Homo sapiens: one gene and its partner. The protein of the gene in region 1 interacts with the protein of each later gene in a pairwise test. Each region holds a gene or a part of one and is shown on either strand. Other genes may lie near its edges.

What was found.
Region 2: the proteins of RNF141 (region 1) and MVK interact in binary tests that used the Homo sapiens proteins (3 or more experiments, as listed by UniProt).

What each region holds. Positions count from the first base shown.
Region 1 is NC_000011.10:10,538,184-10,545,943, forward strand, and holds the start of RNF141 (RING finger protein 141), read right to left. Parts: upstream 3,005-7,760; 5' UTR 2,939-3,004; intron 1-2,938. UniProt on the Homo sapiens protein: May be involved in spermatogenesis.
Region 2 is NC_000012.12:109,569,568-109,576,793, reverse strand, and holds the start of MVK (mevalonate kinase), read right to left. Parts: upstream 3,001-7,226; 5' UTR 2,921-3,000; exon of another isoform or gene 2,119-2,920; intron 1,986-2,118; coding exon of another isoform or gene 1,972-1,985; coding exon 1,894-1,971; intron 797-1,893; coding exon 649-796; intron 1-648. Other genes in the region: corrinoid adenosyltransferase MMAB precursor, read left to right, coding at 3,314-3,447, 5,084-5,145. UniProt on the Homo sapiens protein: Catalyzes the phosphorylation of mevalonate to mevalonate 5-phosphate, a key step in isoprenoid and cholesterol biosynthesis.

The sequences.
Region 1 (7,760 bases):
TTATCTTGTAACTGTACTTGGTATCTGGGAAACTTCATCACTAACTCCTTGCATTAAAATGCAACAGTATCTAGAGACTACCTGAGAGAGCCTGCAGAAGTGGTTTTCAACCTGGTTCCAGAAAGAGGGCTTGACATTTAGTTTATTTTGAAAACCATAAAATATTGATAAATATTAACATCTATCACTATATGGGTGTGAAAATAAGATATGACTCTGTGATCTGCATACAATATAAAACCACAACACAGAGTGCATGTTCACGAAAACAATCTGTTGAGGCCATCCTCTAGTCAACCACCACAGCTTTTCAGTGTCCCTCTTTGGTGACTGCACATATTTCTATCATACTATGACATTCGTTAAGTCACTTGGCCATTTCCCTCTAGTGAGCTTCTTGAGGACAGCAGCTATGGTCTGTCTTCTGGCAGATACACAAGCACTCAATAGATGTTTACTGAATAAATGCAGTAAATACCATTGGCAGTTTTTGTTTTATTATTATTCACTTAGTATTCTTTTGACTTTTGTTAATTTGGTCAGTCATCTATTAGTACTAGGTTGGAGAGAAGCAGAAGTTAAAAATATGTATGAAAGAAAATGTAAAACTGTGAAAATCTGTCATTAAATTAATGCTTATGTAAACTGGGAAACATTTACTATTTGATTTTAACAAGATACTCCCCCCTAGGCCATGCAACAGTGGTATTGCATAGAAACATAATTTGCAAACCACTGGCACAGAATTCAACAAAAGATGAATTTCTGGTCAAGATTTCTCAAAGAACTAGCAGCTCTCATATTATTGTGCCACCTATAACACAGTCATTTTTTGCAAGATAAAAATATGCTTTCAAAAAGCATTTGAAGGATTTTCTAAATAAAGAACTGTTATTTTGAAATGCACAAGATCAAGGATTCCAAAAATGCCACATTCTCTAGTGGGTGGTACATAGTGAATCACTTATTTTTCTAACAAATGAATTGTGGAAGTTCAAATATTCCTTATAAAAATATTAAAATTACATCATGGGTAACTGGCAAAGCAAAAACGAAAAAACTGCTCAAAAACTCCTAAAAATTTAAACCATAATTCATTCATAAAATAACTAAAGCAAAATGGAAAAGGCTGAAAATGCACCAAAATGACTAAATGACAAGTACTGCACTGTAGTATTTTAAAAACCTCTCTGAAACCAGTTCTCCATCAAATTTTGTATCAACCTCACCTAAAAGGATTTAATTGAAATAAACATCAATGATTTTCACTGTCAAGTCAACTTTAACATCAGTAATAAATACCAAGTACTACTGACTGGGTCCCTAAGGATATTATTTACTTTATTACTCATTGTTTACTCAAACTGTAGATCTGTAAACAGATATCAACTTTTTTTTTTCAAGACAAGTTAATATAGATACATAGTGAAATAATTAGGCCAGAGTCACTATAGAGTCCAGAATGCCTGTTCCAGAATCAAAGATCTTGATCAGAAAAAGATACATACATATATATTAGAGAGAGAAGGAGAGAGAAACTACAAAAGGATAGAGTGCCGTACTAGGAGATTAAGAATATGGATTTCTCACAGTAACAGTGTGTTTACTAAATGCATTTCATATTGGAAAAAGCATATTAGACTTGTAAGAATTCTCTCTGGACCTCCCTTGCCTTTTTGGGAAGGAAAGCGTGTTTGTATTTAGATGGGAACCAAGAAGGATCAGGCTACACACATCGAATATAAAGTTCATTTACACCAAATGACAAATATTAATTTTTGAAACATATAGTCATATTCTTGAGAAAAAGTTCTAGAAACTGAAGTCAGGCAATGTGAAAGAAAAGGATAAAAATCCATACTATTTTTGAGCTCTGAATTCAGAAAGCATCACTTCTCAGACGGGTGACTTCGACATGGAGGTGACTAATTTAGGATCGTCGGCCGGTGGCAGCTCATGCCCCCAGACAAAATTCTGAATGGGTAGAGGTCATTTTATAGCAAGAAGAATGGGCAGAAGGGAGTGAAAACGAATAAATTCGTGCTGAAGATGTAAGAATTATAAACAATTGAAAGTGTTCCAGCAGCTTTATATATATGCCAGAGGCAAGAACTGAATTAGCTGGCACCGCTAAATAGGACAGTGTCAGAATATAAAAGGTACACTACCTTTAATAAGGGGCATAGGGATCGATTTCAATAACAATCGTAAATCCACATTTTGTAACGCCGAGACAAATAACTGAAGGAATAATTTCAAAAGCTAACACAGAAGCCTTCTGCTCCTGCTGTGTAATCACTACCTTCTTATTATTAGCAAGAAAACGTTCTTTTCTTAGCCGGGTCTCAAGGTAGCAGCTAGTTTGACAAGGAAAGACCTTTGGGAAGGGTAGCAGCCTAAGCCAATTCATAAGTGTGGGGCTGGCTAAGTAGATCGACGTGGCTATTTCTGAGCTATCGTCCCAGGCAAAAGGTTTCTTATTTGGGTGTCCAGCCCGGCGGAGACCGAGCCCGCGGGCCACCCTAGCGCTCGCTCTGGCTACGCCGCCTCAGCCCCTCCTCAAGCGCACCTGGACATTTAACCAACAGCTAAGTCCGGCGGCCGAATGACTGAGCCGGCGGCAATATTCAAACAACCGTTTTGGGATAGAGAAGGAAAAACTCTCTCCGGGTCCCTCAGAACCACCCCGAGGCGGGACAAGCCACCGCCACCCCGGGCAACTGGAACCCGCCGGGCAGAAGACGGGCGTCAATAGAATGGCCTCCCCAGCCGTCCCCACGCCCCAATCCGAGGCCCGGGGAGGGCGGCGGGGCTAGGCCTGTCTCCCCGCGGAAGCCTGGCTCGGCAGCGGAGGGCCCTCTGGGGTTTCTCTTCCCAGACCCAGAGTCCTGGAGCAGCTAGCAAGGGAAACACGAAAGGACAGCGCCGCGGAGCTCACCCCAGGTTCAAGGCATCGCGCACCCTGCGGCAGCGGCTGCGCTGCCTCAGCCCACAGCTCAGACCTGCGGGTGGCCGCGACTCAGGCCGGGACCCGGTCGCACCTCTGTGACGCAAAGCCCCGCCCCCCGCGCGTTGCCGGGAGACGGCGCCCAACCTTCCTCTGCAGCGCCCCTACCGACCCGCGCTCCGCAGCTCCTGAGGGCTTTCGAGCCCAGATGGTCATCTGAGACGAGAGGTGGCGGCGAAGGAGAGTCTCGCCTGTCACGCTCCCGGAGCAGGGGCTTCATGAGGTGGCCATGGAAACAGCCTGGCAGACTCCCATCTCTCCTGGTGCCATCTCCGGAGCGGAAAGTGGAGCGCCCCGCTGGCGACCAAGGCCGCACTGAGAGCCCTGGTTTGGTCAACAGTTGGGCTCCAAGGTACCACTTCCCAGACCTCCAGCCTCCCCACTGATGATAGATACACAAAGGTCATCTTGTTTCTTTATGAGGCAATGGATTGTGTTCACCTAGCCGAGTTGTTAAGCATAAGAGAATGTATGAAAAGTAATTACAAGGTTCAAAATCCTGAGCTTTGATAAATGATAGATATGATGATGAGCACATGTTAGTGATATTACTGCTCTGCGGGACGTCTGAATCAGTAATTGCTGTCTTTTAAGCATCTGTTGTGTGCCAAATACTGCACTAGGCACTTTACGGGCATTGCTCTTGTTTAAGTCGTCTGGTCAAAGTTGCCTAGACAATAAACAGCAGAGCAAGGATTTTAACCCAGGTACAGCTGACACTGCTGCCTCTATGCTTAGCAGTTAAACTGGTTTTTATGTTTCTTGTTTGTACACCCCTCCTTCACCAGTCACTTGTAGATTCACCTTGTGAAGAGCTAATTCTTCCCTCTAATAATAATACTCTTTGACCATTTACTATATGTCAAACCGTATTTTAAGGACTTTAAAGGTATTAATTCGTTTAATCTTCACAGCAATCCTGTGAGTAGGTATTATTAATACCTTCACTAAGACACAGGCTTAGAAAAGTCGATTAACTTTTCCAAGGTCAAACAACCATTAAGGAGCAGAGCCAGATTCAAACCCAAGCAGACAGAACCCTGAACCTGTGTTTTTAATTCCTGTTTTAAACTGCCTCGGTAGTACGGTAAGACTTCATTAGCGCTAGGTCCATGCCTGTTTGTGCACCATTATTTCCCTGACAGCCAGCATGGTACTTGTTCAATATTTGAACATTTGATGAATATTTGAACACTGGAAAAGGAAAAAGCTTAAAAATGAAGTATAAATAATGATTTAATAAATTCCAAAAGATATCAAATTCAACAAGATTCCATAGTTCAGCCTAATCCGGGCCTGGGAGTTAGAAATATTACTCTGTAAAAATTGCCTTCAATTAAACATTGTATTGGAAGTTCTGGTCAATGAAATAAAAAAAGACAAATATATAAAAGGCATCCAAGTTGGAAAGGAAGTTGTAGCACTGCATTTATTTGCATAAGAAAATTGTGGAATACTACAAAAAAGCTGCTAGAACTCATAAGTGAGTTTACAAAAGTTGCAAGATACAAAATCAAATATACAAAAATCAGTTGTATTTCTATATACTAGCAATGAACAATTAGAAATGGAAAATTTTTAAATATCTCTTATCAGCAAAAAAAAAAAAAAAAAAAAAAGCAGCAAATTTGGGACAAATTTGACCAAAGATGAGAAAGACATGTATACTGAAAACTATAAAATATTATGGAATAGCAAAGACATGGAATCAACCCAGGTGCTTATCAATAGTGGATTGGATAAAGAAAGTGTGGTACATATACGCCATGGAATACTATACAACCACAAAAAGGACTAGATCATATCTTTTGCAGCAACATGAATACAGCTGGAGGCCATTGTCCTAAGCAAAATAATGCAGAAACAGGAAACCAAATACCGCATGTTCTCACTTATAAGTAGGAGCTAAACGTTGAGTACACAGACACAAAGTTGGGAACAATAAACACTGGGGATTCCAAAAGGGTAGAAAAAACTACTATTGGGTACTATGTTCACCACTTGGGTGACCTGGATCATTAGAAGCCTAAACCTCAGCATTGTTCGATATACCCATGTAACAAAACTACACGTGTACCCCCTGAATCTAAAATAAAATAAAAAACATTGTTAAGAGAAATTAAAGAAGACCTAAATAAATAGAGATACATTATGTTCATGAATCAGAAGACTGAGCATTTTTAAGATATCACTTCTGCCTAAATTGACCTACAGATTTAAGGAAATTCCAATAAAAATTCTAGCAGATTTCTTTTTGATGGAAATGACCAAACTAATTCTAAAATTTATATGGAGATGCAAAGGACCTAGGATAGTCAAGACTTTCATCAAAAAAAACAAAGTTTTGGGACTTACACTACCTGATCTCAAGACATTATAATAAGAGCTACTCAACACAGTATAGTATAGGTATGAAAATAGATAGAGTAATGGAACAGTATATAGAACCCAGAGATGTATCTATACATATGTCATCAATTGATTTTCGACAAATATGCCAAGGCAATTCAGTGGGGGAAAAGATAATCTTTTCAACAAATAAACCTGAAAAAATTGAATAGCATATGCCAAAAAACTCTTAATATCTTGCTCCTTTCCTCATACTGTCACAGGATCCTTGGAGTGTTGCTCTGCCAGCCAGAAACCTCTGTGGCCGGTGGCTCCTTTGCCCGAGTTTTGCTCAGGCCCACTGGGCTCATTCTGCCCATTTGGCCTTGCAGGCTGCACTCGGCTCATGCCACTGGCCCAGATCCCATGCCTGCCAAGGACGAGCCAGGCGCAAAGTGGTGAGGGGTGCGTGAGCAAGTGAGCGCGAGGTCTGGCCGCTGTGCACAGCTAGGCACGCCAGCTGTGGCGGGGCGGGTGGCTCCAGGTGCTGGCATGGGCGCTGGCTCCTGCAAAGCTGTGGCTGGACCAGGAGTACCACAAGCGGCTTCCACTGCTGGCACTAGGGAATGTGGTGGCACCTGGAAGCTTTGAGATGCCAGGAAATGCAGAGCCCCCAAGAGGGTGTTACAGTCCTGGCTCAGGGAGCTCTTAGGTCTGGGCTTCTCGAAGTGTCAAAGCTCTTCTCTCCTTCTCTCTTCTGTCCTTCTCATCGCTTGCAACATGGGGAGTGAGGGGGTGTTTCAGCCCTGTTTGTGTTACAGTTCTTTCAGTCCTGCCATTTGGCAGGTCCCAAGTTGTTGTCCCACATCCAGGAATAATGAGGTATGCAGACAATTGGAGGGTGAGTAGGGTGAAGAGGTGCTTTATTGAGTGACAGTATAGCTCTCAGGAGACTCTAAGTGGGTAGCTCCTTTCTGCAGGCAGGTTGTCCGGTTGTCTGCCCAGCTCTCAGCTGAGAGGAGACCCACAGTGGGTGGCTCCTTTCTGCAGGCAGGTCGTCAGGATGTCTGCTGAGCCCTCAGCAGAGAGGAGATCTGGAGTGGGTAGCTCCTACACGCAGGCAGGTTGTCCCCATGTTTCTTGAGTCTGGCTGAGCCTAGGATATTTATGGGCTCAAGAGGGAGGAAGTGCATGCTGATTGGTCCATGGGCAGTAGAAAAAGTGCCATAAGTTCTCACTCCAGTCTGAGGACCTGGCAGCCCAGCCCCCAGGCTTCAGACTCTCAGTTGCCTAAAGGTAGGGTTTCACTGAGGACCCACCCCTTTTTGCCCAGGAGCCAGTCTGCCTCATGCCACTGTCCATGGCACCAAGGCTGTTTGTGCCAGCGGGAGCCTGCAGGCCCACACTGAGCTGCCCTCAGCGCCCCCTCAGCTTCCCCTCCCATGCTCATCAGTGTCCAAAGTCCAGAGGGGGCTGAGGTGGCAGGGGGCTGGCATGTCAGTGTTGCCCCAAGCATGCACACACCTGCCAGATTGTGACAGCGTCTGGGCTTGGCCACAACTTTGCTCTGCCCCAGAAGCAGGGAGAGGCCAGACAGCAGGAGCAGGCACTTTCAAGCCTGTGGGGGCAAGGGGCTTCCTGGGCCCCTGAGAGCACAAGGATGCCCAGGTCCACAGCTGTGGTTGGGCAGCTGCAGCTGTGCCCAGGAGGGTGGGGCTCCCACCCCACCAACTCAGAAGCAGGTGGGGCTCCAGCCTGTTCCTGTTTTCATGGTTCTGTGGAGTGTGCAGCCCTGGCCAGGCCTCCCTCACTGCAGCTTGCATCTTTGCAGCAGCTGCTCCAGACGGGCTGCCACTGCCATCAATACTATATGTAAAAATTAACTAAAAATGGATCATACATCTAAATGTAAGAGCTAAAATCACAAAACTTCTAGAAGATATCTTAGTGACCTTGGATTTCTCAAAGACTTCTTAAAGATGGCACAAAAAGCACAAACTATAAATGAAAAAAAAAAAAAAGGATGAATTGTACTTCATCAAAATTAAATACTTCTGCTTTTTAAAAGACTCTGTTAAGAAAATAAAAAGGTAAGCCACAAACTTGGAGAAAGTATTTGCGAAACATATATTTGGCAAAAGACTTCTAACTAGAATACATAAATAACTCTTACAACCCAATAAGAAGACAACCCAACTTTTTAAAATGGGCAAAATATTTGAACAGACATTTCACCAAAGATTTATAAATGACAAAATAAGTGCATGAATTAATACCATTAATCATTAGGGAAATGCAAATCAGGAAAATAATAAGGTTTCACTGTGCACTGTAGCTACTAGAATGGCTAAAATTTGAAAGACAGATCATATCACATGTTGACAAGGATGTGGAACAACAGAAATTCTTGTATACTGCATGTTGG
Region 2 (7,226 bases), on another chromosome or scaffold:
GTTCAAGCGATTCTCCTACCTCAGCCTCCTGAGTAGCTGAGATTACAGGTGTGTGCCACCACACCCAGCTAATTTTTGTATTTTTAGTAGAGACATGGTTTCGACATGTTGGCCAGGCTGGTCTCGAACTCCTGACCTCAGATGATCCGCCCGCCTTGGCCTCCCAAAGTGCTGGAATTACAGGCATGAGCCACTGTGCCTGGCCTACTTTTATCAATTTTTAATTATACAAAATGCCAATATATTCTCCTTATTTAAAACATGTGTCACTTTGTCTACTCTCTGGCCCTAGGTCTCTCCCAGGAGAACTAATCACCACTGCCAATCTGATGTCTATGCCCCCGAGACCTTTTCTATCATTTATACACATATTTATACTTAAATACGTATGTTTGCTGTTTTGCATTTTTTTCACTCAACAATAGGCCTTGATGATCTGTCCACAACAGCCCACAGAGATCCAATGCATTGTTTTACACCTATAAATTTTAAAAAAATAAAATGAGTGAAGCTAATTTTATGAGGTCAGGGTAGAAAACACCCGGGAAATAGCTGGCCCCTGGCTCCCTTGGGGACAGCCCAGAATACCTGGCCAGCTGCCCTCTCTGTAGGCTCTTAGCACACCTGGTTTCTCCTCCTTGCACTCACCCAGAAAGCTTGTGTCCAGTGACTGAAGCCTGGCCACATCCCAGGCCCGCTTGATACCAATGTTGGGTAAGCTGAGGTCCACTTTCCCATTGCTGTGGGGTTGAAGCCGGAGGAATGTTCTCAAGTTCAAGGATACAGCCAGTGCTACCTATAGAATAAATGACAAAAGCAATAAGCCTGAGGGTGAGTGGCAAAGGGGCCAGGACCCACGTGCTAAGAAGAGAGCAAACATAAGCACAGAGGCCACTCCTAGCCATGCCCTTGCCAGACACTGCTAATCAACCTTGGCATGCTCTCCCACTAAGCCTGGGAACAGCCACCATCGATCAGCTAAAAGTTAAAATCCACTTTGCCTTCTGCCTGCAAAATTTCAGAGGTTCTCAATACCAAGGAATCACTTCCCCATAATCACCATGTTTTCAATGAGAAATATAAGAACATAAAGAATAGCAGTGAGAAGCCAGGTGTGGTGGCTCATATCTGTAATCCCAGCACTTTGGGAGGCCAAGGCAAGAGGATCACTTGAGCCCAGGAGTTTGAGACCAGCGTAGTGTCAGACCACGTCTCTACAGAAAAATAAAAGAAAAAAATTAGTGGGGCATGGTGGTACACACCTGTGGTCCCAGCTACTTGGGAGGCTGAGGTTGGAGGCTGCAGTGAGCCATGATCGCAAGATTGCACTCCGGTGACAGAGCAAGACTGTCTCAGGAAAAAAAAAAAAAAGCAGAGTGCAGCAGAGGTGGTTTCAGACAGACTTAGGTTCACACCAAGCTCTACCAAGGTATATAGGACTTGGATCAAGTTACCACTTCTCTCCTAAGCCTCAGTTTGCACATTTGTAAAATAGGATAATAAAAGGGTATGCCTTGGGGGTAGCTGTAAGGGTAAAATGAGATAATGGATGTTTTCAACTCCTTTGCTAGATCATCCTTCCAACTTCTAAATGTCTTAGTGCCCCGGAGCTCAGTTCTCAAACCTCTTTCCTTCTGCATCAAAGCTCACTCCTAGGTGATCTCATTCCACTCACAGGGCTTTATATTATAATCATCTTTTTGCTATCATACCGAGCGAGGCCCAAGAATCCCTTCAGTGGGCATAAGAAATCTTTTCCTTGCCTGGCTGGGGAGAACCTGATCTCTCTGATCTGCTCCCAAGCTGTGCCTCAGGGTGTCCTTTTACCTTCTTACAAAATTAGCATCAGGGAGAAGGGGTACCCAATCCTTAAAGGCTCTAACGGCTTTGTACCTTGCCATGTACCACGGCATGTTCTCCATGAAGGATGACTTTCCCCGGAGCAGACACCAGTAGGACTTCTGACAACATGGCTCCTGGGAATCCTAAAAGGGAAAGCCAATGAGAAGAGCAAAGATCTCTAGATGTCAGAACCAGCAGGAAGAGATCTTAGAACACCTAGTTCAAGCCCATCATAATAACAAAAAAGGTAGTTACCGTCCAGCACTTGCTACGTACCAGAAAGGCAATGCAGGAGTCAACTGGACACATCCAACAGATCTGGGTTCAAATGCCAGCTCTTCCACTCCCCAGTGATGTCATCTTAGTTAACTCACTTAAATGGCTAAGAACCTCGGTTTCCCCACACGTTATATGGAGAGAAAATAACCGTACCTACCTCGGTGGATGTTAGGAAGGTTAAATTAACGCAAGGGAAACACTTGGCGGTGTCTGGCACCTACTAATCATTCAATTACTGAGAGCTACTTATTACTGGCTCTGTTCTTCGTTTCAGCTTTTACAACTACTACTATTAAAGGTAGAAATTACATGAAATCATGGAGCAGAAAGAACTCTTTGCTGGACATTTAGGCTGTTTCCAATGTGTCACAATTATAAACAAGGCTGCAGAAAACACCCAGTACGCCTCGTTTTGCACACTTAAATGAGTATTTCTGCAGGACAGAGTCCTAGAAAGGAGCTTGCAGGGTCTATAGGTGTGTGCAATTTACACTTTTATACATAACGCAAAATTATCCTCCGCTTAAGGCTTTACGTAGATTACCTTACGCTAAGATTCAGGTGTACTATGAGCTAAGTACTATCGTGATCCCCATTTCTTAGAAAAACTGAGGCTCAGAGCGGGGAATCCCCTTGCTTGTCAAGCTCAAAATCACGACTGTCAGATTGAGGTCGCCGATCCCTCGGGGCAAGACTCTCAGAGCTGGGTAAACTGAGCCACAGAAGCTGGACGCCTGGCTCAGCGTCGTCCTGGGTCTAGGACCTCGCGCCGCCCGGCCGCCCGACCCCGGCCTCTCACCTGCCGCCGCCGCCGCCTCCCCGGCCGCCGCCCCTCCGCGCCGAAGCCGGAGCAGCTCCCCAACTCCCACAACCCAGAGCGCCCGTGCCTCAAGGGGAGGAGGCGTTGTACTTCAGGCCAGCCAATCAGAGCGCGCGAGCCCGGAGTACCTTTACCAATAGGCTTGAACATTGGTCAATAGGTGTTGCAGCCAAGCCGACACGGGTTTTCCCGCCCCGCTCCTTCCGTTAAACCAATGGGAAACAAGTCCCTGGGAGTGTCCCGCCCTGGGGTGAGAACTGCGAACCAATAAAAATTGAAACCTGAGCGGTGGCGCGGCCAGCTGTGGGTGGAGTCACCCCGCGGACTGGACGGGAACCTGGCGGGGTCAGGTCCCGTCAAGCAGCCTGGCTCATGGCTGTGTGCGGCCTGGGGAGCCGTCTTGGCCTGGGGAGCCGTCTTGGCCTGCGCGGGTGCTTCGGCGCCGCCAGGCTCCTGTATCCCCGTTTCCAGAGCCGCGGCCCTCAGGGCGTGGAAGACGGGGACAGGTGAGTGGCTGGCGGGAAGGGCAACTCGAACACCTGCCGTGAATCGTGGTGTCGTCGCCATGGGTACGTCACACCGCCGTGAGGTCACCGCGGCAACCGTCAGGTGACGTCTCCACGCTGTTCTGACGTCACCATGGCAACGTGGGCCACGTGGGCGCCAGAGACCAGGTAGTCTTTGCCTAAGTCCCAATGAAGTCCCGCTATCATCGGGCAGGGCAGGGCATATCCCATGTGGGCCAGGAGGGCTCTCGACTCAGATTGTGACCAATCTCCAAAGCAGTTTATTCCCCAGGTCCCAGATACACCAGCACCTTCTAAAGATGGCTTTCCTCATATTCCTTGAAACTTGCACCTCAACCCAGACCTCAGAACCTCTAGAGTACCGTGGATTAATAATGGATTAATTTAGTTCACAGATCCAGGAAATTAACCTTCGAATGGGCTTGTAATGTCACATTTTAATTTTGAGCTATGTCCTTGAGTTGTTTACATTGTTTTTTGAAAATGCCACTTTTTGAGCTGTATTTTGGCAATTCTTCATCTCTGAGTACACTCGAAGCCTCATACTATGGAAGTGGCTCAGGTTTCTTTTCCTGCAAGAGGCCCTGAGTTGGTGGAGTATAAGATAAAAATTTGGGTAGGATAGAGTTAAGAGTCCTAGCTACTTGGGAGGCTGAGGCAGAGGATCACTTGAGCTCAGGAGTTCAAGGCTGCAGTGAGCTATGATCATGCCACTGCACTGCATTCCAGCTTAGGCAACAGAGCAAGACCCTGTCTGTGAACAAAATAATCATAGGCCAGATACGGTGGCTCACGCCTGTAATCACAACACTTTGGGAGTTTGAGGCAGGAGTATTGCTTGAGCTCAGGAGTTCAAAACCAGCCTGAGCAACATGGTGAAACCCGTCTCTACCAAAAAAAAAAAAAAAAAAAAATTAGCTGGGTGTGGTGGTATACACCCGTGCTCCCAGCTGCTCGGGAGGCTGAGGTGGGAGGATTGTTTGAGCCTGGGAGGCAGAGGTTGCAGTGAGCCTAGATCGTGCAACTGCATTTCAGCCTGGGTGACAGAGTGAGACCCCATCTCAAAATAATAATAATAATAATAAATAAATAAATAATTTCGGTAGGATAGAAGTTACAGTTTGTGCTCTGGTCTAGGACAGTTTTGGGCATCCCACTCCTGCCTCTTCTTGGATGGTCTAGGAAGGTGTCTCATCTGAGCCATAGTTTCCTCCTCAGTAAAATGAAGAGAATAGGTGTTGGCTACCTTTGGGGTTGTGGAAAGATTCCAGGATAATTCCAGAAGATAATGCCTGTAAACTACTTGGCACAGTGCAGGGACAATGGCAAAGGATCAATCAAGTCCTTCAGCAAATATTTATTGAGCATCTTTGTTGAGCAAGGCATTACATCAGCTACTCTACACACTCTGTCATCCAGCTCTGGTCTTGCCCACAAAATGTTTGCTATTAGAAAGGATCTAGGGGAAAGAAATCAACAAGAGATGACCATCTAAGCAGTAAGGGGTAAGTGCTGCCTCTGAGGTTACAAGCAGCAAGCTGGGACCCTCTGAAGGAGCTGACCCTCTGTGTAAGCCATCCCCACTCACCAGATACTGATGTTTATTTCTCATTAGGCCACAGCCTTCCTCGAAGACACCCAGGATCCCCAAGATTTACACCAAAACGGGAGACAAAGGTAGGGTGGGGACAGGTGAAAAATGCAAAGAAATACTCATGGCATACACCATTTTAAAGTTCTTCCAAATTCTTTGCAGCCACTTTAAAGTATAATATACCAGGCGCGGTGGCTCATGCCTGTAATCCCGGCACTTTGGGAGGCCCTGTTGGGCTAATCATCTGAGGCCAGGAATTTGAGACTAGCCTGGCCAATGTGGTGAAACCCCATCTCTACTAAAAATACAAAAATTAGCTGAGTATGGTGGTCCATGCCTGTAACCCCAGCAGCTACTTGGGAGGCTGAGGCAGGAGAATTGCTTGAACTCGGGAGGCAGAGGTTGCAGTGAGCCAAGATCATGCCACTGCACTCCAGCCTGGGTGACAGAGCAAGACTCCATCTCAGAAAAAAAAAAAGTCTCAGAAAAAAAAAGTATGATATTTGACAGATCTCAAAATATGTTACAAAAATGTAATGTGAAATGAAAAACACCCAAGAGATATTAAATGACAAAAGCCTGAATCTGTCTGGATAAGCATGTACATATATGTGTGTTCAGGTGTGTGTAGAATAGTCTGAAAGGTTACACCTGGGACTGTTCTGGGAGAGAGATTAAGTTGTGAGAGGGGAACAAACAGAAGGACTTTCACTATTTACATACTTTTATTCTATTTTATTATTTTTTATAATGAGTATATATTACTTTAATAGTTTTTAAAATGCTAGAACATGTTATATAGAAAAAAGTAAGATGCAGAAGAATGCGTTGCTATGATCCTTTTTTTTTTTTTTTTTTGATACAGGGTTTTACTCTGTCACCCAGGCTGGAGTGCAGTGGCTCAGTCATGGCTCACAACAGCCTCCACCTTTCAGACTCAAGCAATCCTCCCACCTCAGCCTTCTGAGTATCTGGGACAACAGGCACACATCGCCATGCCTGGCTAATACTTTTTAATTTTTTTTGTAGAGATGAGGTCTTGCTGTGTTGCCCAGGCTGGTCTTGAACTGCTAGGCTCAAGGTATCCTCCCAGCTCAGCCTCCCAAAATGCTGGGATTACAGGAGGCATGAGCTACCGCACCAAGACAGTATACCATTTTTTGTAGTACAAAAGCATGCAGACCACTAGTATGTATTGTTTTTTGGATATATACTTGTATAGTAAAAGTATAAAAGCATGTACGGGACATACTCAGTGCCACTGAATGGTAAACTTAAGAAGGGTCAAAATGGTAAAATTTCTGTTATGTATCATCTGTTACCACAATTAAAAAGAAGGAAGAGGATGTTGGAAAGGACTTATTGTAGGGTTGGGCTTGTGTTGGGTGGTTACAAGGAAGTGGGGCTTTGTTCTGGATTGAATCCTGTTAGGAAGCAGGGCTGTTTCTGTCACTGGGTATCTTTTTTTGTTTTTTGAGACAGGGTCTAGTTCTGTTGCCCAGGCTGGAGTGCAGTGGCACGATCTCAGCTCACTGCAACCTCCTGGGTTCAAGCAATTCTTATGCCTCAGCCTCGCGAATAGCTGGGACTACAGGCATGCATCACCATGCCCAACTAATTTTTTCTGTTTTTAGTAGAGACGGGGATTTGCCATGTTGGCCAGGCTAGTCTCGAACTCCTGGCCTCAAGTGATCTGCCCACCATGGCCTCCCAAAGTCCTGGGATTACAGTGTGAGCCACTGCACCTGGCCTGTAATTGGGTATGTTAATAATTTGTTTCTAGAAGACAGAAGGGACAAAGAGGTGCTAACGCTGTAATGGATAAAGATGCAGCAGTCACTCACATTAGCCAGGGAAGGGGGAGGTTTGGTCATCTTTTGGAGTTTGGACACAGTCGTCTGTGCTCAGACGTTCTTCCGCAGTGGCCTTGTCTTGGTCTCGAACCGTCATAGTCATAGAGTGGCCTGTCTGATGGTTTTCTGTGAAATGGTTTGTGTTCAGCAGAACACCACAGTCTACCTGTGAGTGCCAGGCCGGCACCTGGCAACCCCAAAGCCTGCCCGATAGCGAAAGCCAGCTCCAAACTGTCAGGGGCAGTTTTCACTTTCTCAGAGGTTGGGGGAGAAAGGCGGGACTGTGAGCTAGGCAGAGGCACAGAGGACTT